4 linked regions of the Homo sapiens genome follow. The protein of the gene in region 4 interacts with the protein of the main gene of each other region in a biochemical or structural test. Each region holds a gene or a part of one and is shown on either strand. Other genes may lie near its edges.

Region 1 (7,990 bases), on a different chromosome or scaffold from region 4:
GGCGCGCTCGGCCGAGGCCAGGTACTTCTGGCGGTGGAAGCGCTTCTCCAGCTCGCAGATCTGCAGGCGTGTGAAGGACGTGCGCGGCTTCTTCTTCTTGGGGGGCGTCCGGTTCTGATAGGGGTGACCTATACGGCGTGTTACAGTGAAGGGTGAGAGGGCCACTGGAGCGGGAGACAGACAGACGGCAGAGGCAAGCAGCAGAGCGTCAGGAAGCGTCCCAGGCCCAACACCCCGCGAGTCAGCGAGCGCAGCAGCTGAACCCCCACGAGCAGGGCCGAGATCCTCCCGTTAGCCCTCAGCGACAAGCCCACGGCGGGAAACGGCCTCCTCCTGCCCGCCAGTCCGACGCCGCCGTCGCCGCTACCACGGAGGCCTCCCTGGCCCCGGGCTCCCGCGAGCCCAACCACCTCCCTGCCGCCTCTCCTCCAGGGGCAGTCTAAGGCGAGCTAATGGTCACGCTCCCCTCCCCTCAGTCAGCCCCAGGCCTTCAGGCTCAGAGTAAGAGGCCGAGCCTGACTCTGGAACCCGACCTGAGCCTCCATCCACAGCAGCACACACCAACACAACGTACAACGGGGGCAAACTCACAGATCTATACACCCAAACAGGACCAGACAAGCACAGGCACGGGACAAGCACACAGGACACAGAGCAAAACAAGGCCACAGCCATACACTCGCTGAAACCGCCTTCATGCCTGACACAGTATTAGGGCCCCGCGGTAGGCCCTAAACCGAGTACCTTTCACCAGAGGCCCAGGATTAGTGGACTCCCGGCTGGGTTTCCAGCAGGGCCCTTCAAGACTGGCCTGGCCTGGGTGGGGAATGGGATGGGCACCAGGCCCTGCTGCCCCAGGCCAGAGAAAACTTAGGTTGGGGGCACTGGGACCCCTCTAGGGAGGGCCCTTCCTGAGGCCTAGACCCAAGCAACTGTTCTTCCTCTGGACACCAGCCTCCACACCACTTCTGCCGTGGCCCCAGAGTCTGGTAAGAAGCTGCAGAAGCAGTTTCCCTGGCTGTGCTGCTGCCTGGAACAGAAGCAGGAAGCCAGGGGTGCTTTGGAATCTCCTGGCCCAGTATCTAGCTCTCAGCAGCTTCTCCCAAGTAGTTATGTAAACCCCCCTTCCACTGTTGGGCCCTTGAACCGGGGGACCCCCAGGAGGCCCCATCTCTGCCAGCAGCAGCCAGTGCCTCCTGCCTCCTCTCTCTAAGATCGGCTGGCTAACCTGGGCTCAATTTGTGGCTGCTTCCCAGCCCGGACGGAAGGATCGTGGTCTAGGATCCAGGGAACCCTAAGGGGAGCAGAAAGTGAGAACGGGGGAAGGGATCCACGCCAGAGGGAGAGTTGAGTGCCCAGAGTGGAAACGGGAGCAGAGGGAGCCAGGGCCAGCAGAGGAAGGCGGGAGCGGGCAGCAGAGAAGGCGGCAGCGGCCACCACTTAGTACCCAATGTCCCGGGAGTAGTCTTCCCGCCACCGATCACCAGCCTACCGGTGCATTGTTCGTGCCCAAGATAACAGGGCTGGGCCCGGGGTAGGACACCCAGCCGGGAGAGAACGAAAATGAAAAGCTAGCTGTCCTGGGCGGCTAAGCCCCGCTGCCATCCTCCCAGATGAAGCCTGCTCTCCGGAAAAAAAAAAAAAGGCCACTGGTTCTGCTGATTTACCGGGGCTCAGAGCCCCCACTGGCCCCGCAGCACCACGGGCACCGGAGCTAGGGGCGCGAAGTGCATGTGTGTAGGGGACTGGAGGTGGGGGAACCTGTTCTTTTCTTGTGTCTGATCCTGGGGCTCGCTTCCTGGGTCCTAGAACAGCAGCCAGGACGGAAGAAACTGTTCACGTTGCACCCCTTTCTCTAAGATTCCCAGGCCAAGAGTAGCTGCAGAAGGTGGTCCTGAATCTATGGCCTCCTTCTCTCTGCCTGACCCGGCTAGTGGATCCGGAGAGGGGACCAGGGAGAGCTCCTCCGAGCAGGGGTCCTTCGGGAGACAGAGAGGGGTCCAGGCTGAGAGAACTCTTCAAGCATGGCGAGTCTGCGTTATAGAATCGGGCGGGCGGCTCAACTTGGGGGAAGCACCAAGAAGAGCTGGGCGACCTGGAGCGCAGAACCGGCTTTGGGGAGCCACCCGGCGGGGCAGGGGTAGCACGGAGCCCGGGCCGCGGCCAGGCGGGGAGCGCGCGGGCCGGACTCACCTGTGAACCTGTCCTTTGTGTATCTGCGGTTACTCTCCATCCAGGGGAAGGTGAGGCCAGTGAGGTTGTTGACGCCCGGCATGGCAGGCACAGAGGGCACGGTGGGCAAGCCGGTGGCCAGGGGCTGGGGGTGGGCCACGGCTCCGGCGAGCGGCCTGTGTGCCGGCACCCGGATTACCCCCGCAGCGCTGAGTGCCCCGGCACCGCCGCTGCTGCCGCCGCCGCCGCCAGGACCGGGGCCGCCTGCCAAGGCCATGTTCACGTTGTAGGAGCCGGTCAGAGGACCCATGCTGCAGGCGCCGCCGCCGCCTGCCGGGCCTCCGGGGCCGCCGGGACCTCCAGTACCATAGGCCCCCGCTCCTCCAGCCCCCGTCGCGGCCGCGGAGCCCCCGCCGCCGTAAGTGTAGGCGCCTCCGACCAAGCAGCCAAGGCCGTATTCTCCGTCCTGGAGGCGCGAGGCGGGTCCCATGCAGCCACCCTGGTCCGGGCTGTTGAGGATCTGGTCGATGCCGAAGCTAATGGGCTCTGCGTGACCCGGGTGGAGGTGGTGCGGACCCAGGTGCTCCATGCTGGCCCTGGCCCCACCGGGGGGCCCGGGCGGCGGCGCTCGCTGCGCTCGGCTCGGGGGGCAGCTAGCAGGGGCTGGGAGGCAACAGCGGCTCCTGGCTGCGCGGAGACTTGGAAGCGAAGTGCGCAGAAAGGCTAAAGTAGAAGGGGGAGGGGAGGGAGAGAGGGGGCGCCGTATTCTTCCCCTCTCTGGCTTCTGCTTCCCCGCTCCGGCTGCTCGCTCGCTGTTGACTCTGGGACATCAATCACCAGGCGAAAAAGCCCGGTGCAAGAGAGCTTCGCGGTTTCGACTGGGTCTCTCCATTGGCTGTGCGCGGAGAGGAGCGGGGTGAATGACAGCGCGAGGGAGGGGAGGGGAGGGGGAGAGGAAGGCCAGAAGCCGAGACAGATGCAGGAGCCAGAGATAGAGGGACGGAGACCAAGACTCGGAGTAGTTCATGAAGAGAGAGAAGAGGGGAACAAGGCGAGGCTTAAAAGGAAAAGGGAAAACAGGAAGCGACCATTCCCAGAGACGGACAGACAGACAAACCCAAGGAGGGTGAAGTCAACTGTCTTCCCGGCCTGTTGGGAGCCCTCCCCTCACTTTGAACTGGGCCAAAGGAGTCCAGCCCACAAGGCGTCTGAGGAAGGGATGTCTCTGCCCAACTGGAGAATCTCCTCAAGGGCTCAGCTGCGAAACACCTGTCACTCAACCAGGAGATTTACTCCAAATTTCAAGTCCAGCTTTTTAGAAAGTAGAAGACTGTCTACTCCCCAGGTATGGAGCCCAGGCCCTGAGGCAGGACGGTGAGTTCAGGCTTGCCCTTCTTTAAAACACAGGCCTATGAACAACTGGCTATATGTTATAAAAATCAGCAACCACCCCCCAACTCAGCCTTCTTAGACAAATTCAGGAAGGGAACATATCCTGAAAGGCAGGCACAAGTCAAGAGGGTTGGTTTGGGGTCTGCTGCCAGGGTGCCCATGCCTCAACATACCCCTTTGGTTTTAAATAAACAGATGCGTCAAGAAGTAAAATCCTACAGGGTTCGAAAGAGGCAATTCCTACAGTGTTTGAATGAATTCAACCAGATTGCATTCCACCTAACAATTACCCCAGGGTTGGCTATTCCAGACAAGAAGCCTTTGGACTGTGGTGTGTGTTCTTTTCTTACGTTTGGAATCTTGGGAGGGAGCCATAGGGGCTTAAGGCCGTGGGGGCTGGGATTGGTGGGACTAGGATCAGGGAAGTGCATCCAGGACAAATTTAGGCCTTTCCAACGTTTTGCCAGTGGCTGTCTGGCTGAGAGCCCAAGAGAAAAGGAGGAAACTCCCTTTTTCTTCTTCCTGTCTTTCCCCTCTCCAGTAGAAAATGTTTGCTACCTTTTAGAAGCCAAGCTTTGGGAAAGGCACAGGTTCCATCACTTGGGATCTATTTCTGTTCTATTTCAGTTCAGTTTCAGATTAGACTTTTGGGTAGGCCCTGTCTCTATCTGGAAAGATGCTAGGATGTGAAGACTCACATTCTCTCCCATCAAGTCTTATTGCAATCTATTTGCTTTGGGCATGTCTGTCACCTCCACTTGAAGAGATCTTCTTGGAGGCAGAGAGTGGCTTATTCATTTCTGTTCTCTCCTGAAGAATACAGCCCCAAACAACAAAATATGGTCATCTTGGGTGAATAACAAAGAATGTATCTCTTTATTCAATAATATTTATTGAGTACTGTACTCACTATGTGTCAGGCACTGTTCTAGGCATGGGGGACATAGCAGTGAACAAAACAAAGGTCCTGACCTCATGAAGCTTACATTCTATAGAGGGGGTCAGACAATAAGCAAAGAAGCAAATACAACAAGACAGATGTTAGTATTATGGAGAACAATATAAACTCTACACCAATCCTTCGAGATGAGTATTCTCCCTATTTTACAGATGTGAGGAAAGTACATTTCAGAATAGCTATGATTGGTGTGGATCAATATGGAGGAGCTAGACTCAACTTGCTTTTGTGGGTTAGCCTGGAAACCTACGTGCTGGTTGGAAGTTTGTATCTGTGGGGAAAACCTTGTCTGAGCTCTAGCCAGGTGGACAAAGGCCCACTCAAGACAAAGCCAAATGTGAAATTGGTAGTTGTTTGTAAACACTAAGCAGAAGGCTGGGCATGGTGGCTCACACCTGTAATCCCAGCACTTTGGGAGGCCAAGGCGGGCAGATCACGAGGTCAGGAGATTGAGACCATCCTGGCTAACACGGTGAAACCCCGTCTCTACCAAAAGTACAAAAAATTAGCCAGGCGTGGTGGTGGGCACCTGTAGTCCCAGCTACTCAGGAAGCTGAGGCAGGAGAATGGCGTGAACCCAGGAGGCAGAGCTTGCAGTAAGCTGAGATCGCGCCACTGCACTCCAGCCTGGGCAACAGTGCAAGACTCCATCTCAAAAAACAAACAAACAAAAAAAAACACTAAGCAGAAACATGAGAGGGCTCCGCTCCCTCGCCAGTTCTCTTCTTCCCACTTACCCAATCCAGGTACTCTACCCCTTCCCAAGGAGTTCCATAACTTACTTTGGAAGTTGTCTGAACCCGAATGAATCTCTTCCTGCCTCTTATCTTGAGGGAACTAAAGCAGAAATAAATTATTTATTGAAAGACAGTTTTGTGCCAGGTACCACATCATGCTTATCTCATTTAAGACTTATAACAACCCAGGCAAGTTAATAGAAATGTCCCAATTTTTTATAATTGAGAGAATTGAATGAATGTTCATGGCAGTATTATTCATGATAGCCCAAAAGGGGAAACAACTCAGATGTCCACCAACTGATGAATAGATAAACAAAATTTGTTATATCCACACATGGAATATTATTTAGCCATAAAAAGGAAAAGAAGGGAAATGCTGGTTCATGCTATAACATGGATGAACCTAGGAGACTATTCTGCTAAGTGAAAGAAGCCAAGCACAAAGGCCACATATTGTATGATTCCACTTTTATGAAATGTCCAAAATAGGCAAATCCACAGAGGCAGAGAATAGATTAGTGGTTTTCAGGAACTGGGGGCAGCAGGGAATGGAAATTGACTGCTAATGGATACAGAATTCCTTTTGGAGTGATGAAAACATTCTGGAATGAGATAGTGGTGATGGTTACATAACTTTTAAAAATATTAAAACCCACCGAATTATACATTTTAAAGGGGCTGAATATTATAGCACATGAATTATATCTCATTTTTAAAAAGAAAAAAATGGCTGGGTGCAGTGGCCCGTGCCTGTAGTTCTAGCAGCTCTGCAGGGTGAGGCTAGAGGATCACTTGGGGCCAGGAATTTGAGCCTGAGATGTGCTATAATTGCACCTCTAGCCTGGGCAACATAGCAATGCCCCATCTCTAAAAAGAAAATGAAAACTGAGACTCAGTAAAGAGAACAAACTTGCTCCAAGTTCCATAGACAGAGAAGATTGATCTGGAATCTCAAAATCTGAGCTATTTTCCTTGTTTGAGGCTGAAAACTATGGGGAAGGGTACTGCAGCTTTTTTTGAGGCTGGGTCCTAGTGGCCTCACTCCTTTTAGTCTCACCACAGTTTTACCTGCTGCAGTTAAAACCCCATCTTTTGGTGTGGGTTGGTTGAAGGTAAAATTTATAAAACTAAATAAAATAAAATAAAATAAAATAAAATAAACCACCTATCTTTCCAGGTGCACATCTCCAGCTCAGATGGCCTTCCAACCCTTTTGGCATTTGCCTGATCTACCTCTTGAACTCCTCAGATCTGGTATCAGTTGTCCAGGGTACCTGGGAGGAGACTTTACCATTCCTGGCCCAGCTTAAGGTTGGCAGAGTCACCACTCCCTTGTACATGGCCCACTAAGACTGTCAAGCTCTTCTCATTAAAATCCAGCAGCCCAGGGATATACTGACTTTCCCCTGCGATCACAGCCGCTTCCTTGACGGATTTCTTCCTTTTTCCCCTCCTACCTTTTTTGTTTATCAGAGTCAACTTTTATCCCAATTGGGGATACTCCCAACTTTTACCCTCAATGAGGTGCTGGGATTCTGTGAGTCAGCTTAATCCCAGCCTTTGTCTTCCAATAGGGTATTTACTGAGGGCCAAGACTACCCTCTCTGTCCCTTCCTTACCTAGAAAGATGAGACTGGAGGGTCAGGATTTGCTGGGCTCTGGCGCCCACCCCTTCTCCTGAGAGCAGTGTTACCTGAGCACGGTGTTGCAAGGTTGGGAAGTTTTCTGAAACAGGAGAGGAGACTCACACAAGTTTATATTCGCTGCAGCTTCTGTGTTTCCACCGTGCTTTTGCATGCCTTGCAAAACAGCCCTGATAGGAACGAGGAGGGAGGGGAAGAAAGCAGGACTCACAGAGCAACTGCCATGTGTGAGCCACCAGAATGATCTCTCCACTCATCTTTAATCCTGTGATGTGGTTTTTGTTATCCCCATTTTACAGATGAGAAAACCAAGGCACTGAAAGCTGGAAAGGGGCAGACCAGACGCAAACACTGCTTTCTTGACTCCACTCACTACAAGCTGCTTCCTTAAGCCTAAACTTGGCTCTTGCCTCACAGGACTATCTTGCAGGAACCTAGGTGAGTTGCAGATCCTTCTCTCTGGTTCTGAGGCCACCTGGTAACACCCCTCCCCCCAAGCACCGGCTCCCCCTGGCCTGCAGAATAAAAAAGTGCCTCCAATTAAAAGAAGAGCAGCTGGGGCCAGGGCCCGGGCTGGGGGAGGAGGAAAGGACGGGCTCAGCCCAGGGGGAGGCCCCTTTGGATCCCACACAATCTCCTCCTCTTCCCCGCTCTGAAAGAGACCCCCGGGCCAGGGGTTGTCCTTTAGCTTACGGATATGTGTGGAAACTTAATTACTTTGTGTTTGTGGGGCCGTGCATCCACGAGGGGAAAGCTGGATGGGAAAGCCTGTGTGACAGTCAGGATTGAGAGGGCTGTGCAGATGTCCTGGGCATGTCTTTAAGAAATAATTTTAACAATGTATTCAATGAATAATTATAGAGCATCTAGTATGTATCAGGCACTGTGTTAGGCTGTTGGGATACAACTGCAAGCAAAATGCATGTTGGGAAGAGTGTTGGAGGAAAAGAAGGGAGTCTGGGTATTTTATACAACTGGATTTTGTCATGTGAGGATGTATGTGTCAGTGAGAATGCAAGTGAATGTGTTTTCTGCAACAAGATGAGTATGTGTTTACAACTGTTCCTCTGTAGTGAGTGCCTGTG
Region 2 (7,658 bases), on a different chromosome or scaffold from region 4:
TTAAGAGGGTGCGGAGAGGAAACTTTTGGGTGCTAGGGAACGTCTTATTTGAACCAAAGGATTGGCTAATTAATGAAGACCCCAAGTCTTGAAGGAGGCGCAGCAGTTGGAAGTGTTTTTGCTTTGGATGCTGGTGAGCTACCCTGAGAGGAGAGCTGCAGGAACCACCCTTAACGTGCAATGGGCAATAGGATTGGATCCATTAGCTTCGTGAATTTAGTCCTGTTCAATCTTCCTCAGGAGGAGCTAGAAGAACAAGGGCTGCAGACTTACCCGACTGCAACTTAAAAACATTTTTTTTGGAAATCCTTTAAGAGACTGACCACAAGTTTATCAGGGAAGCCTTACCAGATGGCTGCTTGTAAAGTAAATGGAATTTAGTCTTTTTAGTTCATGGAGGATTGGTGAAAAGTTTGATGGATTTTTACAAATGTTCTTTTAATAACAAAAGAGTCAATTCCTGAATTACCAATTACATGTAATTCAAATTCCACCAAAAGCCTTTTTACATATTCTGGAAGAATCAGTTCGAAGACATAAAAGCCTTTACTTTTTTCTTTTATTATATTTTCTCAAATAAACTTCCCCAAAGGAAGATATTTTAAGAGCATTTTCAAACATCTTTGGCATCACATAAAAAAGAAATCTCGTGTAAAAAACGAAATGTCATCTGAGCTTTTATAATACAAAGGCGCAATCCAATATGAACATATAAAATATATACAAATATAGTGCATGGTCAGTCACTTAATACAGCTCTCTCTACAAAAAGTAACTTCTTAGAAATTAAAAAAACACAAAGTAACCACTTAATCAAAAAAGTCCTCTTCTCTCCCAGTATTCAAGTTCCTGTTTAGAGTCCGGAGGGAAGAGAGGTGGGTTGGGGAGTTTAGGAGGAGGGGTGGCCTGAGCCCCCTCAGTTCCGCCACGGCCTCCACATGGAGTCCGCCGTAAGCGAGGGGCCGCTGGAAGGTGACACTGCGTTGGGGCCCACGGAGGTGCCGCTGTTGCTGGTGTAGACGGGGATGACAGGGCCGCTGTGCGCGAAGGCCCCGTTGGGAATGAGGAAAGCAAACTGGCCATCGGGAGCCGGTACCACCTGGAAGCCTCCAAACACCTTAGCCGCCTCTCCAGCCTGGCTGCCCAGCTTGCAGGGGGCGCCGCCGGGAGGGGGCGCCGCGCCCCCGGGGATGGGCACGAGTGGCGGCGGCGGCGCGAACGGCGCGTGCTGGGGGCCGCCGGGTCCCGGTGGGGGCGGTGGCGGCGCCTGCAAGGCGGGGTGCGGCTGCCCGGGGTAGGTCATGGCATTGATCTGGGTCATGCAGTTGGCCAGGTGGCCGAGCAGCCGAGTGCGCACCTCGGTATTAACGCCCTCGCACGTGGACAGGAAGCGGGTCACCTCGTTCATGCACTCGCTGAAGCCGGCTCGGTACTTCCCCAGCACACTTGGGTCTGTGCTCAGCGCAGCTGCGGGCCAGAAAGAGACAGACGGGTCACCGAACGGCCCTGGCCCCGTGGCCACTGCCTCCGCCCTGGGAGGTCCCTGTGGCGCGCCTCCCTGACCATGCGCCCGTGAAACTGCCTCCGGCAGGGAGGGTGAGATGGGTTTAGAAAAAACCAGCCACCTCTCCACACTAGCGTTGCTGCCAAAAGCCGAGCCACTCCTTCCCGATTCCCTGTAGCTGCATTTAAACCTATCTCAGCCCCAGATCTGTCACCCCCACCCCCGCGCGCGATGTGACCTTGGACAATGCCTCCCAATCCATCATCCAAGCCTCATTTCCCCTTCTGCAACGGGAAGGAGTGCTAAACCAGTGACCCCCAGGCTCCACGCAGTTCCAAACCGCCACAGTCCTAAGTCCTTTCGCCCCTACCCGGCGCCCGCCACCCTCGCGGCTGCAACCTCTTTCCCTCCCTTTCCGGAACAGTAACAACTTGGAGTTGTGGCTATAAATAAGCCCCAGACCGTGGGAACGCAAGAGTGAGCCAAGGCAGTAAAATGTAGCTGAATGCCTCTCACAACCACGGGCGGAAGTCTGGAAGAAATCACCGCGAGGCGAGCGGGACGCCCGCACAGGGGGACGCGGCGAGCCGCCCTCACCCGTCATCTGCGCCCGCTGCAGGTTCCGGAGGTGCTTCACTGTCATTTCCAGAATGTCCGCCTTCTCCAGCTTGGAATGCCGCGAGCTCTGCATAGAGTAGGCAAGAAAGGAAAGTGAGCCCCGTGTCAGCTGCTTCAGAGTGCTGGGGGTCCCTCCTCCCGGCCACGGAGCGCAAGCATTATCTCTGGACCCCAGCGAATAAGGCCGGGCCCTCCCGCCTGGGAGAACGCAGTACCAGCGAGTGCCAGACCCCGCAGGGCGGGGGGTTTCACTCTTAGTAGCTGAGAAAGTGTTTGTTTTTTAATTAAAAGAGCGAGCAGCATTTCCCCACTTACATCTTTCTTCAGAGCATCCAAAATCAGTGTTTTCAGCTGGCTCAGACTTTCATTTATTCTTGCTCTTCGTCTTTTCTCCATAATAGGCTTTGATGACTGCAAATAAAAAAAAGAGTTCTGTGTTCCCATGGAATCTGCCATCCCGGGGTTTCAAGACAGAAAGAAGCCCCCCAACCCCTACTTAATTTTGAGGGGCTGCAAAGAGATACAGGTACCGCCCTTACCTTTCTGTGCTCAGATGCTGTCTTTGGTTTATCCGGTGTCGTGTTGACACTGGCTGGGGTAGCAGCCACCGGGGACGAGGAATTTTTCTCCATTATATCAGCTGGCATTTTCCTTTTTTTTTTTTTTTTATCTCTAGAGAATTTTATTTTTGGAGTTCTTCACGAAAAAGAATTTTTTGTTTGTGTCTCTTTTACTTGAGACTTTCACAAAACTACTGAGCAAGTGCTGAGGGTTTATTATATTTTGTGGCTACTTGGTGATCAGTAGCGCTGTTCCAGGACCAAGGAGAGAGGTAGACGGGGGATTCCGCTGTTATCAGCACCAGCTCCGGATCCTGTGTGATCCCTAGGCCCTGGCGGCCTCTATATATATCTGGGACTGCACGCGAACGGCTCGTGTGAAACTTCCCAAACTTTCTTTCCCACAGTAACTTTCAGCCAATGGGAGGAGGAGACACGCGGCACCGCTCGTGGACCGCGCCCCCCCATTGGCCGCCAGGCACAAGGTCTGGCGGCCAATGGCGCGCGCCTGAGCCCAGGGCACCGGAGGCTACAACGTCAATCAAAAGGATTTTAACCCTTTGCTACTCTCCCTCTGGGCTTTGGTTTAGAGATTTTTTTTTTCTTTCCGCTTTGGTCTTGATCTTGTCTATTTCTTTTGGAGCCAGGGTCTTTGCTCTTTATGCCCTCTCTCATATGTAACAGAGCTGCTTTGACTGTAGTAAGTTCATTTGAAACATATTTTTTTTAAAGGTATAAACAATAAAGAAAAAAACAGCAGTGGTTAAAAGGGGGCGGGGGGAGGGGGGGACGGGTGTAAGAATGTGAGTTACCGACACATCTAAAGTTCCCGCTCAGACTTTACATTCAGGAGGGTGAAAGTAGATGGTAAAGGAAAAGGGCCAAAAAAATTTTCCTGTTTCCATGCAGAAAAAGGAAAAATTGCCTTCTACCTCACAAATGCAGGTTTTTCGGAGCAAGGTAGTTCTTGAATCCCACCCCCACCCCGTCTTTCAGAAATTCCTCGTTTGGATTTGGGGCCTTAGACCCCGGGCTTCCCCAGGAAACAATCAGAATAATTTCCAACTGGGTGGAAGGAAACGGTATTTCAAATGAAAAAATGAACAAGGGGGGCTCCGAGGGCAATGACTCAGGGACTCGCGCCCTCCTTCACCACCCTTTCCCTTTTCATCCGTAGGCTTTAGGTTCTGCGGCGCGTTGAGGTGGCGGGCAAGGAAGCAGCCTCTCCCTCCTCGCCCCGCGGGCGGCCTCGGCCCCCGGCGCCCGCGGGCCCTTTAAGAGCTACACCAGCCGAGCTGCAGTTTGACATCAGCCGGCCGGCGTGGGCGCGCCTGGAGCCGGAGCACGTGCCAGGATGTTTTATTGCCGCCGCGGCTGCGGCCGGGCCGGGAGGATGTGTGTGTGCGTGCGTGTGTGAGTGAGTGTGTGTGCGCGCGCCCCGGGGGCAGGGAGGCGGGGGGCGGCGACGGGCGGCGGAGAGCGGGGGCCGGTTCCTGGTCCCCGGGAGAAGCCAAGAAGGTAAATAGCAGCTGCTGTGCTCGAGCCTGGGAAAACCCCGCCCCCTGCGCCTGGCCCGGGCTCATTGGCGCGCGCTGCGTGTGGGGGGTGTGTGTGTGTGTGTGTCCGGGGCCCCCTCCTCCGGCCCCGCCGGGCCAGGAATCCGAGGGGGCGGCGGGCTGGGAGCCGAGCCCCGGCGCTTACCCTCTCTCCCCACCCCCGCCTCCCCAGGCCAAGGTCAGCTCTTCCCGGCGGGGAGCGCACACCCGGGGTGGAGAGTGGGGAATTCTTCCAACCCCCGCCTCCCCACCCTCACTTTCGGGCTTGGGGTTTTCACTCGGCCGAAAGCCGCATTCGCAACAGCCCGGGGGCGAGGTGGGGGCCTCCAAGTTTGCTCCTCGCCCCCGCCCTCTCCCCGCGGGGCCCTGGGCGCCCGCCGCGGTCACGGGATGCCTGACCGCACTTAGGAAGCGGCCGGGTCAGCCTCCTGCCTCCGCTCGGCGACTGCGGTTAAAGCGGCTTCGCGCCGCCCGCCCCTTCCCCGGGTCCCGGGCGGCCGGGCCGCTCCCCCTCACTACGCCCGGGAGGCCGCCGGCGGGCGCCCGGGAGGAGGCGGGCGGCGCGGGCGGCTGCGTGCTGCCTGCTGGCCGGGCCGCGCGCCGGGAGGAGTCGCCGCCGCCGCCGCCGGGTGCCACGTGGCGGGCGCCGGGCCGGGAGCGCCAGGGCTCTGGCGGCGGCCTCCCTGGGGGATTTGCCGAGCCGGGCGGGCGGCGCGCACTGCCTGGGCCGGCCGGCCGCCTCCTCCGCCTCCCTCCCGCCTGCCCGGGTCGCCGGCCCCCGTGCCCCCACCCCCCCTCCGCCCTTCCCGCCGCCTGGGAGCTCGGCTCGCGGCTCCGGGCAGCCCGGGAGCCCAGCGTCTTGTTTGATGTGGCCTCCCGCCCCCTCAGCCCTTCCCGCGTCCCGGAGGCCTGGCGCACGGTTCTCAGACACTTCATTCCTTCCGGCCTCCCAGCTCCCCACTGAGATAACGTTGTCAATGATTTCGCCAGATCTCGTCCCGGATGAGATTCAGTGGTTCCTGACTCTGGGTGACCTTGGGCAAGCCCCCCTCTCTCTTTCATTGTGGAACACACGCGCAGTGTCAGACACTGTGTTAAACCCTGGGATTTCCACGGTGAGAGATACAGTGGCGGCCTGCTAGAAGTTGACAGTAAACTGCGGGGGCAGACAGACGCTGATTTTCTGATTGATGACTGGACATTCCTTTATTTTTCCTTTCTTTTCTGAGTTAGGTGGTGGCTTGAGAGATCAGGAGGACAGAAACAAAATATGAAACCATACTTGTATGGATAACAGTATTGCTGGTCTACCTGGGTTTACAGCAGTGAGTAAGACCGTTATTGCTCTCTGGAAGCTAACAGTCTAGAGATACATATAAACGTGTACAGCTGACATCTACGGATGGCCCAGTAAATTCCTCTGGGAAGTCGTAGGTTCAAGAGAGACGTATGTCTGGATAGAGGTAAAATGCTATGGAGTTTCAGGAGAATTAAGTTACTTTTAAGTTGGGGTACCTTGGAAAACTTCCTGGAGGGATTGGCCTGTGTACCTTGAAAAATAGGTAGGATTGGGGCATTGGGAATGTGCTTAGTCGTGGGCTGGAGAGGATGCAGGTACCCATGGTATTAAAGGCCAAGATCCTGGAACTTGAAGACTTTATTCAGGGAACATGGTCTGGAGCCTAGGGAATGTGAGGGACTGGAAGAGGCAGCTTGAGGCCATGTCACAAGCTCCTTAAACATCTTGCTGAAGGACTTTGGACCTTATCTTTAGACAGTGGAGAGCCATGAAACATTCTTGAGCAAAGAAGAGGCATCAGGGTTTCCCTTTAGAAAGATGGCTCTGGCAAAAGTGGGAGAGTGGATTGCAGGGCTTGGAGGCAGAAAGGGCAGTTAGGCAGTTCAAGCCAGTGAAGAAGGTTCCTAGGAGGCAGGTGCAGACTGACTCCCAGAGGCATCTGTCTACATCCAGCTCCTCTGGACATTGACCGCACGCTCTTGGGAACTGAGTTCAACTCAAACCTGCCTACCCTTTAATGCAGTGTTCCCAACCCCCAACCAGGAACTCAGGAACTCAGATTTAATTCCTGAGTCTAACTAAGGAATCATGGCTCTGACCGTATTAACCTAAGCCTCATTTCCACCTTCCAGGATAGTCCTCCAGTCTGCAACCAAACATTTCCCTCATCGAAGGCTTTGGTTTACTCACTGTTGCCCCTAAGGCTACTCTGAGATTTTTTTTAAAAAATGTTTTCTTACACTGCAGAGTGAGCTGTGCCCTGTCATGTTCTGAAGAAATGATGAACAATGCCTCCTTTGTTGACCTGCAACCTGGGCCAAAGGGGAAGGAATTTTCTTTCTTATTTTAAACAGATGGAAAAGTGGTGATGACAGAAAATTGTCTGTTGCTTTTGGAAAACGTAGGGTTTTCCTGTGTGGTGAAAATCCTCTTGGTGAAAGGTGATGAGCCTATGAAGTTACCCTCCTTTCTGCCATGGCCCCAATAAGCTTTGCAAGCTTCTTAAAATGCTTCTACTGAGCGTCTGACTTTTTAAAAACTTCCCAAATACACTGACCCAGATTCTTCTGAGGAACTAAACCCTTCCCGGGGAAGCATGTTAACCCTTTCCAGGTTCCCCCCAAATCTTTCAGAACCAGTGCCTGCTCTGCTAGGCTCTGCCAGGCTCTGCCATGACATTGACTGCTGTCTGCTGGTCGGCCCTCATTAACTACTGGGTTATGCCACTCCCTGCCCATTCTAAGAGACTTTTTCATCTGATTCTGTTCCCCACTCTTATTTGGTGCCCTGAAGGTGCATGGGGAATGGAATATGGTCAAGTTAGGGTCTCACTGAAGGGGCTAAAGCAGCCTCGTGGGTCAAATAGTTAATCAGCAACTCGTTTATTGCCACTTTGGGAGTGCTTGGACTGGTGGAATGGGCAAGTAACTTTCACACACACGTTTTTAGATAGGGGGACAGAGGCTCAAGTAACAAAAAAAATTATGAATTTGTGTCTGGACCAAAAATAAATAAATAATAAATAAAAATAAATTCCAGGAACTCTCTGGCTTTCCACTCTAACCATTCAAGAAGAGTTTCTTGCAGATGGGCTCACAGATGACTTTTCAGTTTCCTTATGCTAGGCAGTGAAAATAGGACCAACGTTGTCCTCTCCCCACCCCTTCTCAAATGGGACAGTAAGCTCCTAAACTCAGGAAGAAGCATCTGCATCTGGAAGAATGCTCTTAGATAGATAGAAACAGCCTTTATTTTTCAGTCATCCTTTTCCCCCGACTCCCAAAGCAAAGAGAAAATGGAGCCCAGTTCATCAGTGGAGGTCACTTCTTTGATCCCCCTGTGACACCAGCATCGTTCTGAATCGTTCTCACCGTGTCATGCCCAATACATACAACCAGGGG
Region 3 (7,020 bases), on a different chromosome or scaffold from region 4:
TGAAACCTTTTAGTGCATGGGTGTGCTGGCCTACATATTTACAAGCATAAGGGGAAAGTTCAGAACATATGCAGTCTACAGAAGAAATATTTCATCACTAAGATCAAGCCCTGCAGTGAATCTCTGCAGTCATCCCACTGGTTTTCATTTCTTCTCTCTCTCTCCCTTCTTTCCTTTAATTATTTTTATTTATTCCTGTGAACACCTGATTCAGGCTTGTTGTCGGGGTAAGATTATAATGCTATAGACCTGGAAAGGCTCTCATACCCTACTACACCTTGTTAAAAGCTATTTTTAAATGAAATCATTCACCTGTCATGTTTATAGCCTATTATATAAATTAATTTCTCACATTCTGAATATGTTACTTTGTGTAACCATTAAATGACCATTTATAGATTCACATATGAGGATTTCTGGTGTTTGATTGTAGCCTCCACTTTCAAGGTAATCAAATAGTCCCTACTCCCTTTGTTTTCAAACTTCAAATTGCTAGAAGAGTAAGGAAGAGAGGGAAGGAGAGGGAGAGAGAAAGGAAAGCAATGCAATGCAGTTGGATATTTTACCTCCAAGGCTGGAAAGAGGATTTATCTCCTTCTCCTACAGGAAGGTGGAAAGGTTTTCTTCCTTTTGTCTATCCAGATGATAAAGAGAGAATCAGACGGACTTAAATAACTCTATACAACTGAGAAACAGGGTCATTTCAGTATCTCAGAGTTTTGCAGACAGCAGCACCAGAATATAGTCCTTCCTAAGTAACTTTAATTTTGGGGGAAAATAATTAGCAAGACAGAAGTTACTTGGAATACTAAAAATCAAGAGATGATTTGAGAGGTCAGGGACCCCTCTTGGCCATATGGAACACTCAAAGTGAGGCACGCATACTCATAAAAGTGGATTAGATGTTGACTGGGTTTGGATGATAAGCACTTGGTCCCAATGAACTTCAAAAGTAGGAAGGCAATGGCCCCAATAAAGTAAACAGAGTGGCTGGTAAGCCTTCTCCCTGCTCATATACCCCCTCTTTCACTCTTATTTAGAGATTCATTATTCTGAGTTTTCTTTTCTCCCAAACTTTATAAACAAATGCACATGTACCAAAGGAGACAGTTTATTAAGGTGCCCACCACACAGCCTGGCCCCAAAATTCTTCTTATTATCAACATCTAATTATAATAGAACATGTTCAATACAAGAATGCCAAGTGAGTGGATAGCCCAACACTTTTTCCATCCCTCCTTTGGTGATTGGGATTCTTCTCGACACTGGTCAGCCCTGTAGTAAATCGATCCTTGACCCAAGAGTGCACGCCCAGGGAACGGCCATCCCACTTGCACTGGCTTTGTAGCAAGGAAGGTCTGGGTTTGCGTCCAAGTTCATCACTTACAATCTTTGAGATACTGGGCAATTTTTAACCTCTGAATTTCGATTTCTCTGTCTATAAATGATACCACAGGATTGTTGAGGGAATGGAATAATATGTACAAATGTCTGACCCACGTCAAAATAGCTCACAACTGGTCCAGTTAAAGAGTTAAATCTTCTTCCTACATGCTTATGACAACCAGCATGCAGAAGAACAACAAAATGGGCTTCCTAGTTTATCTAGGTTTCAGTTTTCTGTACCAGCATCTATTACTCCATCCTCATATTCCCAGAAAGGAGGAAATTACGACACCTTAAATGTGATACATCATATTTGGTCAATCAGGGGTGAAATTTTAAAATCACTCACTCGGGTTGCCCAAACCCATCTCTAGGTGGGAGTTGTGACTGAACAGGCATCGGTACCACTAGCTCTAGAATCTGCCCTGTTCTATCTTTTGAAATAAATTAAAAAAGAATTCTAAGACTCGATCGTAGAAGTTAATGATGGTGTCCTGACTGGGAGAAACGTGTAGCCCAAGGGTCTACTCATGACAAAATGGCTTTCTATTCTATTTCATGACAAAATGGCTTTACCAGTTTAAGACCTGGTAAAATAGGAAGTTGAAATAAACCTCAGCCCTTTAATAGTTAAGACCCCAACAAATAAACAGTGGTTTAGTGGCATGACAACTTGCCCCCTCTCAATCTGTACCGTGCTTCAGATAATTTGAGATGTCTATTTTGAGTGACCCTCCAGCACATGTGATTCTAGGTAAGTATTGGTGCTATTCTATATCAGTATTTTCTTGCTGACAGAGTCAGAGGAGCTGGCATAACCCTTCTGACAAAGTCCTAGCAAGGTAGGGTTCCTGAGCCTTTCTATAAATCCCGGCAAGCTCGCCAAACCCCCGGTTACTGACATTTCTGTAAAGCTGAAAAACATTCATGCATCTGGACAGCACCACTGTGGAACTACTCTGACAAATTGGATATTTTTCTGAAAACTACCACTGCCATTTCAAAGAAAGCCAGAAACACATGCTGTATTTCTTAAAGTATCTTCGTAAATATAACATAGAAATTTCAGGGCTGAGCCTGGAAAATAAGCATTTTCCTACTGTCAAGAACAAACTGAAGGTCTTGGCTGAACAAGACTTGCATATTATACCTGTTAACTTTCCAATTTCAAGAGAAAAAGCCCAAGGGTCTACTCAAAACATGATTAGCGTAAAACAGCGTTTTCTTATAGGAAAGAAAGAACAAAAGGAAAAGGAAAAGTTGTTTCACATGAAAATATTCTGGATACTTATTTTTTAAAAGTTGTTCCTAAAATTTTACAAGTGAAGTACTGAATATCAAATTCATATTTTGGAAAGAAAGAACACCAGCAATATAGTTCACACATTCTTTAGAGTAGCAACCAAGCCCGTAGGAACTCTAAAAGCGAGTTATGATTTCTTAAATGTTGCAGAAGTAAAAGTTTTCAAGAGGAACAAAAAAGGGGCGATGCTTAGTGTTAAACCTGATACTCTACTAAGCATATAGGTCTCCAAAGAGCTGACGAATGCCCATCACACGGTCCACAATAATGCTTTTGCCCAGGAGCTTCAGAGGATGAGAACTCAATGTGCAACTTCCCCCCATTTTTTTGTTTTTGTTGTTAAAGAGGCATATCTGATGAAGAAGGAAATCAGATTAGATTCACTCTTCACCAAGAAACAGAGCAACTCAATGGTGACAATATCAATTTTCCCCCATGTGGCTGAATTTTCCATTGCCTTTAAAAATGCTTAAGACTTTTTGTTCCCATATCAGCAGAAAAAGGCAAATCCCTTAATCAACCTAGTAGTATAAATGGCCAGTTAGGCAACGAGAGACTAAGAAAACAGTCTTCCTTTTGATTTTACACATGAATAGATGATGTGAATTAGTTTTCTGAAGATTATGTGAATTAGTTTAAATGACCTTAAAGGCAAGATGAAAGAATCTCCTTGAGAGTTGTATCCTCTTTGGAAGCAAAGTATTGTTTTGCCCCAAGCCCATCTCGCTCACTGAACATACCATTTGACTTAATTTACCATATACGCTTGTATTTTGGAATTTAAAAAAAATCAATGTACACATTTTAAATCATTATTAATGATTATTATGTAACAGGAAACCAGTGGTTTCATGGATCCTCTTCCTAAATACACCTAAATGAACCTATAGATGACAGGCAGCCCCCCAAAACATCAAGCTTTAGGTTTCTGTTTGTTTACAAAAGGGTTACTCCACAGACAGGCCACTTAGCTGTGTGCATAGTATCTTCTGGAAAGATTTATTTGGAAATTTTCCAATCAAGTAGAAGAACCTTCCCCAGAAACCTAACAGTGAGAGCTAATGGCATGGGCTGTCAAGCTCCATGGGAGACAGTGGGCATGCCTTTTGAGAACCCATGTTTTTGTTTGTTTGTTTGTTTGTTTTTTGAGATGGAGTCTCGCTCTGTTGCCCAGGCTGGAGTGCAGTGGTGCAATCTCGGCTTACTGCAACCTCCAACCTCCCGGGTTCACACCATTCTCCTGCCTCAGCCTCCTGAGTAGCTGGGACTACAGGCACCCGCCACCATGCCTGCCTAATTTTTTGTATTTTTAGTAGAGTTGGGGTTTCACCATGTTAGCCAGGATGGTCTCCATCTCCTGACCTCGTGATCCGCCCGCCTTGGCCTCCCAAAGTGCTGGGATTACACGTGTGAGCCACCGCGCCCGGCCTGAGAACCCATGTTTGAACCCAAAATAGAGAGCTACTGGCCTGGAAACCCAAAGGAACAGATGATATTTGTACATCCCACAATACAACTCACATACAGAAAATGCCTGGGGAAGCTAATTCCTGCTGTCCGAGAGGGGCAAAGAGCTACCACATCGATTGCTGGCCACCTGCCCTTTTCCCCAGATGTGTTGCTTATCTTTTCCTTAACAAGCCTGCTACTTTGAGAAAGAAATATTACTGTAAACCATATCACACACAGCTGCATCCTGCATGGCACAGAGAAAAGTCTGCATTTTGGATTTTTGAAACGGTATCACAGAGCAAACAGTCATTGACGTCACTGGTCTACAGTGTAAATGAACTTCTTGTATTATCTAATTTGGCACAGTGGGCCTTAGGCAATTATTGCATCTTACAGCGCTTTAGTAATTGCCAGCTAGCCCCATGGGCTGGGGGGACCTGCATTCTCTATTGATTTGCAAATAACACCCTTGATGTGATGACATCCATACATTTCAACTATTTCTTAATAATAAAAAAACACTAGATACAAAACCCACAAATAATCTGGCAATAGCGAGAACTTGAAACATCCCATCTTCACTTTGCTTGACGTGTGTGTGTGTGTGTGTCTGCGTGTGTGTCTTCAAGCCTAATGGGTAGGTAAAAAAATAGCATAGCCAAAGCTAACTCTTAAAAAATTCAAGAGAGCTATCTATCCAATATGGATATCCATACCCAGAGCTCCTCGTATCCTCTGTAGCAGTGCTTTTCCTTGTGGGGATCTGGTTACAATGCAGATCTGACTCGGTGGGTCTGGGGTGGGTGGGGCCCAAGACTCTGCATTTCCAACAGCTCCCAGGTGGTGCTGTTGGTTCGAGGCCTTTCTCTGAGCATCAAGGGGAAACCCCAGTTGGTCTGGGAAGGTGTGTGCACATGGGGGCCAGTTGTGGGTGGTGGCCCAGGTGCAGGAGAGGCGGGCAGTGGGCTCCATCTGGTACTTACCCTGCATCTGACTCTGAGGCTGAGGGTTAAAGGCAGTGGAGTGGTTCAGGGAGGCACGAGGGTTGGGCGTGGGGGCTGGGTGGTGTGGGCTGACCCTCATGGCTGTGCGCCGCAGCTGCTCCAGTTCACTGAGCCGCTCGGAAAAGGACAAGCTCCCGGGCTTGGTCTGATCATCTAGTTTCTGCCGATGTCCTATTGTGGGGAGCAGGGAGGGGAGGGGATGGGGGGAGGGAAGGAGGGAGGGAAGAGATCAGAAAAAGTATTGTGGATTTCCTAAAACTGGGGCTTTTCTTGTCTTTCCCCTCTCTCTCCCCTCACCCCAACATAGACTCGCTAGAGATATGCCAGCTGAATTTGGGGCCACTGTCCTCTCAGCAGAATGGGCCCCCTTTCACCGCCTCGGCCACAGAGTGCTCCCCCAGTCTGGGCCTTGGCACCCTCCCCAACCCTCTACACCCACTTCCAATGGGCACAACTCACTGAGATACAGAACTTGGCGGTGGTGGTGATGCCGGGAGGGAAAGAGGCGCATTAATTGTTGGCACATGGCCACATGCCAGGGGCTATGCTGTGGCAGCCAGGAAAGGTGGCCTCCCAGGGGCATCAGAACGGCTGTTCCTTACTGCAAACCCAGCCACTGGCACGTTTTAGAGGCGGCAAAGTGGGCCCCGCAGCTTAGTGGTAGGGCCCCTTCCAAGAGGAAATGAGGCGTGGCTGCAAACCCACAGCCTCTGGGGAGGTCCCATTTCCAGGTACACGCAGGGCATCCTCAGCCCCTCAGCCCCTCTCCCTCTCCCTCTCCTCACAGGCTTTTCACAAGCATTCCTTCTTCCCTGAAGCCGACTCCCCCATGTACCCCTAAGGAGGAGTTGACAGGAAGGCCTCGCCTGTGTCTTGTCCAATATTCCCAGCAGAATAGGCCCACTGGAGCCCAGAGGTAGCTACAGCCTATCTGGTGAGCTTCCCCAGGGGGCTCAGGACTGGTGGGATGGGATGATGGGCCCCTCAGTGTCTATATAGGGTGGGATGGTGGGCCCCTCAGTGTCTATATAGATAGCAAGTGTCCTCATCATGCTCTTCACCAAAACAACCGTCACCAGGAAGCAGCAAGCAGAGGCCACTCATGGGGGACTGGGGCCTACGGTTTTCTCAAAATGTCCTTAAACCAGAGCCAGTCCTGTCGTGCAAAGCTGAGGCTCCAAGGTAGGGAGGTAGCCACAGGAGGCCTGGGCCATTCATTTCTCTTTTAAAGACAATGGCCTCCTGCTGCTTCCTCAGCCTTATGGTTCCAATAAAGAGTCCTTGATCGATTGCACAACCTCTGTTCCCTATTGCCAAATGTCCCCAAAGCCAGACTGAGAAACAGCCTGCCCGCTGCCCCCATAAAGTGCTATTTCACATGCCCTGACCCAATCCTAGACTAGAAAGAGGCCCCCTTGATTCCACTCCCGCAGCCTGGGGTAAGAGCAGACCACGAGAAGTGCACTGTAGTCCAGCTCCCAATGGCTACAATTATAAAATTAAATGGTATAACTTGCATGATGGCTGCAAATCTCCATGGCTGGCCATTTCTTCCTGCTGCCAGGCCCCTTGGCACAGTTGACATTGTCTCAAATTCCAGACCAGAAAAAAAGGGCCCACTATATTGCAGTGATTTTATCATTAACGAGACCTGTTTGGCTCCAAAATGAGGAAAAACACTTAAGCATAATATTTATGTAGTTCAAATGCAATGGCCCCTCTTGTCATGTGTCACCAAGGCAAATCTGGACTCTGATTCAGCGCTCCAGCCCACAACAGGAGACTTGAACGCAAACAGCCTGAGTCACGCAGGCTCAGCATGCATGTGGGAGGCCTGTTCTTGGCTGCGTATTTTAAGCACCGGCTTTGTGGATG
Region 4 (7,020 bases):
CACACCTGCGCATCCTAGTTCCACTTAAAACATCACACCGTATTCACAGAACAATCCTCTGGTGAGGAGTATTTTGAAGGTACAGATGCCTATTCTTGTCAAATAAGCCCACCGACAGAAACAGCTGTCTAAAATTTACTTAAAAACCACTATACTAAATACCCTGTAGTAAAGGTACTAGTTGTGAGAATTTCCATTTTTAAAAATCAGAGGCAACAATAAGCAATGGGGAGGGGAGAGGGTAGGAAACGAAATCAATCAAAGCTTTGAGGAAAGCCAGTAAGTTTCTCAGTTTCCTCCCCTTTAATCCACTTCTGGAGACCACAAAAGGTTTAATAATAAAACAGCAAAGACTCAGATCCATGGAAACTTAAAATGGTTCCATGAGCCAGTAACTGAATATATTTTTAGTTTAACTACCACTCAAGATGATTTATTTAAATATTTACTAAAGAAACAGATTTTCTTTCTGTTTCTTAATAAACACTATTTGGGAGAACATCTTAAGTCCTCTGGCGAAGGACGCTCCTCAATTTGCACGCACGAGGTGCTGGGTTCTGCGGGTGTATGCTGGGATGGCTCCCACCATGCGAGGGAACAAACAGACTTTTGTCTAGTCTAACCCTCATTATACAGAGAGGGGAACTGAAGCCAGGGAACGTGTTCATGACTTGCCCAGTCCCGAATGGAAATCCCCAATTAAATGACTTCAATGAACTACAACGGAACCAAGTCAGAGCCTATAGTTCATGGCCACTCCCCACAGGACAGGTAACCAAAGGCAGAAAGAGGGGGAGGCAAGGGAGGTGCTGTGGCCCTGCAATGGCCTGACTCTACCTCCTGTCCTCACCCTATTCCCAACTCCCCCTGTTGGATCCTGCCCTAATACAAAATTTGGACATGTTGTTCCTTGAAGATTTTGGGGGCATTCCGTTTGAATTTTCAAAATATTGATCATGATAACTATGTTTTGTGATTTTCTTAAAATCCATGCCCAGGGACTCCCTTGCCTTACTCCAGTGCAAGTCCAGGACAAAAACCAGCCACTGGCCCACTGCTGAAGGGTGGGGAAGGTGACTGAGAGGTGAGAGATCAGTCCTGCTTGCTGATAAGAAACAAAGGCTAATCTTGCACCTCGGAATCTAGGCTCTAAATGCAGAGAGCTTTCTCTCTTTTAACTTATGCTTGCAAAGAACAGGCCTGGCTAATGAAGTTGAGGACCACTCCAATCTTGATGACAGCTACCCTCTTTGTATGACAAGATTATTAACACCTGCTGGAGCTTAACTCTAAGTGCCTATACTCTAGCTAGTCATTTCCCTGTGTGAGATGTTGACTTAGGGGGAAAAAAAATCTCAAAGTGAGAAACTGTAGACAAAAACACACAGGGTTAAAAAAAAAAAACAAAAAAAACACTAAGGTAAAATTTGCAAAAGAGTAAAAGAATCACATCTAAGGAAATATCCCACAGGTGAGTCCCTAACAGTCCCATCTAAATACTTTTTTAAAAACCCACTAAAGAACAACGCATTTTTCTAAGAGAAATTTTAAAGCACACATCAAAACTGTAAAAGCAGTTTCACTCCAAAATTTACATGGCCTGAGATGTTGCTTGCTGAAATATCACATGGAGCTCTTTCCCTTTCCCAACCAGGATTGCAGAATATATCATCCTTCCTTTCAGATTTTCAGAGCTAGTCTTTTCATTTATTTTTAAATGCTTCACCATCGGCCGGGCACAGTGGTTTATGCCTGTAATCCCAGCACTTTGCGAAGCCGAGGCGGGGGGAATCACTTGAGGTCAGGAGTTCGAGACCAGCCTAGCCAATATAGTGAAACCCCATCTCTACTAAAAATAAAAAATTAGCCAGGCATGGTGGTGGACTCCTGTAATCCCAACTACTGAGGAGGCTGAGGCAGGAGAATCGCTTGAACCTGGGAGGCGGAGGTTGCAGTGAGCCGAGACTGTGCCACCACACTCCAGCCTGGGTGACGGAACGAGATTCCGTCGCGCAAAAAAAAAAAAGAAAAAAAATTCTTCACCATCCTGGAGAGCCCAGTGCTCTCACTCTGCCCATTCTTCAGCAGAACACAGGCACAAAGTGACTGATCAAACTCCCTCCCCATCACTGGGTCTCCACCAGGATTCCTGACTTGTTTCTTCTTAAACATACTTTAACCTGAGGACAGTACTGCTCAGTAGTTTTATCTACCCATGGCCTGTGACCCTCCTCTCCCCAGAAAGACCAGTCAGCGGCACTGCTGATTCTCCTAACTTTTAGAACATACATTCAGTCCTGACATGTCTTACAAATCATGAAGTTCATCAGCACAAAGAGTCAGAACTGAAGAGGCAGGCACTAGGGAGACATGGTCCACCTCATCTTCCTGATGGCAGCATGAGGGGATAGGAAGAAGCACAGACAGGCCGGGTGTGGTAGCTCATGCCTGTAATCCTAGCACTTTGGGAGGCCAAGGTGGGTGGATCACTTGAGGTCAGGAGTTCGAAACCAGCCTGCGAACATGGGTGAAACCCTCTCTCTACTACAAAAAAAAGAAAAAAAAAGTTAGCCGGGCATGGTGGCGGACACCTGTAATCCCAGCTACTCCGGAGGCTGAGGCAGGAGAATTGCTTGAACCCAGGAGGCAAAGGCTGCAGTAAGCAGAGATCGACCACTGCACTCCAGCCTGGGGAACAAAGCGAGATTCCATCTCAAAAAAAAAAAAAAAGCAGCAGCAGCAGCACAGACAACCCTGGAGGAGGCAACCCAACTCAAGCTTCAATAGATGCGTGGCCTTGAGCAAGTCCCAGACTCTGAACACGTGCACACAGCTGTAGGCAGAGCAAAACACCTACCCAATCTACTCTGGAGGATGCCTATGGAGGTCACAGAAGACAAATCACATTGAAAACTGTTCATTACTGTGCAAATTAAAGCCACCAATGACAATTTATAGCATGGCTTCATCAGCATGCTGAAAAGATAACATGAGTGGGCTAAAATAAGGTTTATGTGTGCATTTACAGTACATCTTGTTCCCAAAAATATCAAATGAGGTAATATCAAACCATATGACAGACAAAAACATTTAAAGATCACGCCACCACACACACTAGGCACAGCTAGGCAAACCACCAGGCTCACATCAACTTGCTGTTTTTTAATGCACCCTAACACTCTGATGGTATCAGAACTGCCTCAATTTTCCATGAGACATTGTCTACCTCTACTGTATAGAGATATCTAGAGTTTACCATCCACACAGATAAAGATGGGCAGACAGGGATCTATAAAGGGCTCCAAGAAAAAAATATTCTTAGTGCTACCATGAAAGACTTAAGTATCTATTACCATTCCTGTTTCATTGCCTTTTCGGTAACCCGCCACAAACGGGAGCAGAGAAAGTAAAGGCAAGGCTTATCAGGAAGTGTTGACACAACCTAAACACGGGCTGTGGGCACCACACCAGGAAAGGAAACCACAATTATACCATTCTTGATTTGGATGCACTTTCACTTTAAAACTTCCAGACAGGAAAGTCAGCAGTGAGATTTGACACTGAAATCTCTAGAACTCACTCCGACAAACCCGTTGAAAGGTGGGAAGGGAGAGCGGTCGTCACACTGGAGACAAATCTTAACAGCATTAAAGCTCTCTGTACGGAAAGTTTCCCCATCACTGCATTTTTTTTTTTTTTTTAGTAACAAAGATGTTGTCAAAAATGACAATTTTTTGTGTCCCCTGATGATGCCTTGCTAGCATTTGGTTATAAGCCATAAAGCAGGAATAATTTCAGCCTGTCAGGAGTCTCGCTAATGCCCAGTTTCCCCCTAGAGAGAATTCCTGTCAAATCTAATGAGAGCTCCAAAGGCCCTCTCTACAATATAATGAGCACTTAGGCCATGCTGGTGATCAGGCGGCAAAAAGCATCAATTTGAGCTTGGCTACACCCTGGGGGCCAGACGTCACCAGTTTTAATAAGAATTATGATTACTAGCTGCACCAAATGCCTCCTCAGAACTTATTATTAATGTGTGACATTCAGAAGGATGTTTTTCAAATGTAAGTCCACTTTAAACTGAATTATAGCACTACTTTGCACAGCACTCTAGTTAAGGGTCTGTCAGCATTTCCAATATCAACTAAATTTCAGGAGGCTCAGTACCCTACTATGAAGAACATGGTGTCTCTCAGCTTTTCACGTTTTTCAAATTGCTAAGCCAATTATACACAGCATATTATTAATGCATACAGGCTCACGGACAGACAGTATATAGCCACAAATGCCTCACTCTGTATAGAAACTCATTAGAAAACTATTCTCACACCATGGTGCTTCTGACCCACTTCACCCCTTCTCCCTACATGATAAAGAAGAGGTCATCCCGCCACATAACCTACAGGAACCCAGAAGAATTACACACCTCTTTTAGCTCCTCCAATAAACCCAGCACCAGCATATAGCATCACACTGAGGTGGTGTTCCCTTGTAAAAGAGTCAATGAGGTTATTAAATCCTTTGAGTTTATGGGTTTAAGAAAAAGCTCAGTCTCCTCTTACTCTTCCATAATATCTGTTATCCAAAAAAAAGTGCCCTTCAGAGTAAATTAAAAAAAAAAAAAAAGATTAAACCGCCTAGGCCAAGTTTATTTGCATAATTCACTTAAATGACGATAGATGTTAGCCACAGATCTTCTAGCCCATTTACTATCAAGAAGTTACAAGTGCCTGAATAAGGCACTAGCCACTGAGAAACACACAAAAACAAAGGCACAAACCCAACATAAAGTAGGCTACCAACTTTGTAAATCATAGTAAAATCTGCATTTTTAAAGGCCCAATTACATTATTAATAAAAGGCCCTGAAAATCACAATCTCTTTCCAAACACAAATCTGAGAACAGATCTAATGTACACGATAACTTAACATTATGAAATCTATGATGAATTAAAAATCAAAGAGTGCGGAGTTACAAAAGCAGAATTCAACTCTGAAACACACTTGCTTAATGAAAGTCTTTGAATATAAGGAAGATCTGAAGGCTGAACTAATCAATTTCTCCACTGTGCCCCAGCCGGTCAGCCATGCTCTTTAATTTAATGAAACAAGGGTTTGAGATGAAATAGCACATATACATCAAGTAAGAATTGTATTGTTGCACTTTGAAATGTGTCCAACTGTGCAACTTCATCTGATGATAATTTTTTAAGAGGCAATCGATTTCTAAAAGACTTATTGTACCAGCGTCTTGATGAAAAAGTGAATGTCAGCGTATCTCCAGAATACTTACACCCTGCCATTAATGCTTTCTTTGGCAGACAATGACTACTCAATCGAGGGTCCTTTGGGCTGAGCAATCATTTAGCTTTTCTTCTCTTATGAGGTCCTTAGTGCCTTGTTCCAGCTCAATACTCTTTTTATACACCATTATAGTAGCCATAAGTGTGAATTTTATGGGAACTTGCAAACTCATAGTCATTGCTAGAGCTTTCCAGTCACTAATCTTTTCATGCTTTAAAAACCACTAGGACTGAAGCAACTCCCAACATATGCTCTGGCCATAAAAAGATGCTTTTTTCACATCCACACCTGCAACAACTGAGAAATTTTTCAAAAATTTGTTTGCTAATAAGCCACTAATCCTGACTATTGCTTCATGCAGCCCCAAAGCATAAAGAATACTCCACAGATAGTCATATACCTTGATTACCACGATTAAAAAAAACTCCTGAATACCCTTCTTTCCCCCCAACAGGTCCACACTTCCTTGCAAAACAGCACAAAAACATTAACTATTCTAAACTTCAGCAACTGTAGAAGATACCCAGCCCTTTCAAGAGGATAAATCTATACAGGTGAAAAAGTAAACTCAAGTCTTAATTCCTATCTGTCAATAAAGAGGCTAGTTTATATTTCCAAAACACCTCTCCCTCTCCTAGTCATTTAAACACTTGTAATTATCAAGAAGCAACCCTTGATGCAGAATACTACCATCAATCCACAGGACAGGAAACCAAGGCAGAAAAATAGCATACAAACCCCCACCCCTAGAGCCCACTACTGAGAACAAAGCCAGTATTATTAAATCATATGAACTGATGTCTCATTTCAGCTTGAAGTTCAACTAAAGCTTACCTGTTTGTGCATTTCAATGTTTAATCCATATGACATTTCATAATACTGTAAAGAGAAAAAAGAATCAAGCATTTCATTAACTCATGTTTTTTACACTCTGCTAACACGTTTGCTAATATCATATGAAAAAGGAAAAAGTCCAATCTTTGATACCTACCATCACATAGTGCCTCTGCATTTCTGTCTTTTCACTTGCCAGTTTCTCACATTCCAATTTAAGGCTAGGAAAACAAAACAGGCAACTTAATGTAAACATTATGTCACTTGTTTTAACATCTGCCTCACATATTTGCACTTCAAGTAAAAACACAGACCAATTTGGAAAAGCCATAAACTATCTAGGTAAACACCCAAAAGCTTTGTCCTTGCATTTAATAGGGAAAAGGAATAATGTGAACAATACAAGGTGTCCATTCAGCTACCATTCTTCTTGGTGCCTATCTGGTTAGATGACAAGAATGAAAAAAATCTGTCAGAACCTCTAACTGATTCCTCCTCATGGTCATCTGCTCCCTACCTTCCTGCATCAGTTTGTTTCTCTGTACTCCACCAAAATCCGGCCCTTGCACAATCTTCACTCTTAGGCATAGGCTGTGCCATCTTTGCCAACTCAAACGGTCTCTAGGTTTGAAAATCCTATCTGTTAAGTTACTCCTACAATTGCTGGTCCCTTTCAAAACCTTTGGTTTTTAAATCCCTGCCAAAATATGTCAAGTAGCTACTGCAATAAAGTGGGTTGAAGTTCTCCCTGCTGGGTAAACACGGTGTGTGCAAGTATGCCTCAAGCTGCAGAGATATTATCTACAAGTAGACAAAAGGTCAATAATGAGAAAGCCCCTGACAAAGTAAGAAAATTCACACCCAAGCCACTTCGCCTCATCT

Evidence for each region.
Region 1: the proteins of TLE1 (region 4) and TLX1 form a complex in vitro, tested with the Homo sapiens proteins (one study listed by BioGRID).
Region 2: the proteins of TLE1 (region 4) and HES1 form a complex in vitro, tested with the Homo sapiens proteins (one study listed by BioGRID).
Region 3: the proteins of TLE1 (region 4) and RUNX1 interact in far-western blotting, tested with the Homo sapiens proteins (one study listed by BioGRID and IntAct).

Annotation. Positions count from the first base shown.
Region 1 is NC_000010.11:101,126,313-101,134,302, reverse strand, and holds the start of TLX1 (T-cell leukemia homeobox protein 1), read right to left. Parts: upstream 3,004-7,990; 5' UTR 2,762-3,003; coding exon 2,194-2,761; intron 165-2,193; coding exon of another isoform or gene 129-164; coding exon 1-128. UniProt on the Homo sapiens protein: Controls the genesis of the spleen. Binds to the DNA sequence 5'-GGCGGTAAGTGG-3'.
Region 2 is NC_000003.12:194,131,492-194,139,149, reverse strand, and holds HES1 (transcription factor HES-1), read right to left. Parts: upstream 3,003-7,658; 5' UTR 2,770-3,002; coding exon 2,662-2,769; intron 2,534-2,661; coding exon 2,438-2,533; intron 2,190-2,437; coding exon 2,102-2,189; intron 1,468-2,101; coding exon 917-1,467; 3' UTR 418-916; downstream 1-417. UniProt on the Homo sapiens protein: Transcriptional repressor of genes that require a bHLH protein for their transcription. May act as a negative regulator of myogenesis by inhibiting the functions of MYOD1 and ASH1.
Region 3 is NC_000021.9:34,829,286-34,836,305, forward strand, and holds part of RUNX1 (runt-related transcription factor 1), read right to left. Parts: intron 5,317-7,020; coding exon 5,125-5,316; intron 1-5,124.
Region 4 is NC_000009.12:81,679,538-81,686,557, forward strand, and holds part of TLE1 (transducin-like enhancer protein 1), read right to left. Parts: intron 6,360-7,020; coding exon 6,296-6,359; intron 6,184-6,295; coding exon 6,139-6,183; intron 1-6,138. UniProt on the Homo sapiens protein: Transcriptional corepressor that binds to a number of transcription factors. Inhibits NF-kappa-B-regulated gene expression. Inhibits the transcriptional activation mediated by FOXA2, and by CTNNB1 and TCF family members in Wnt signaling.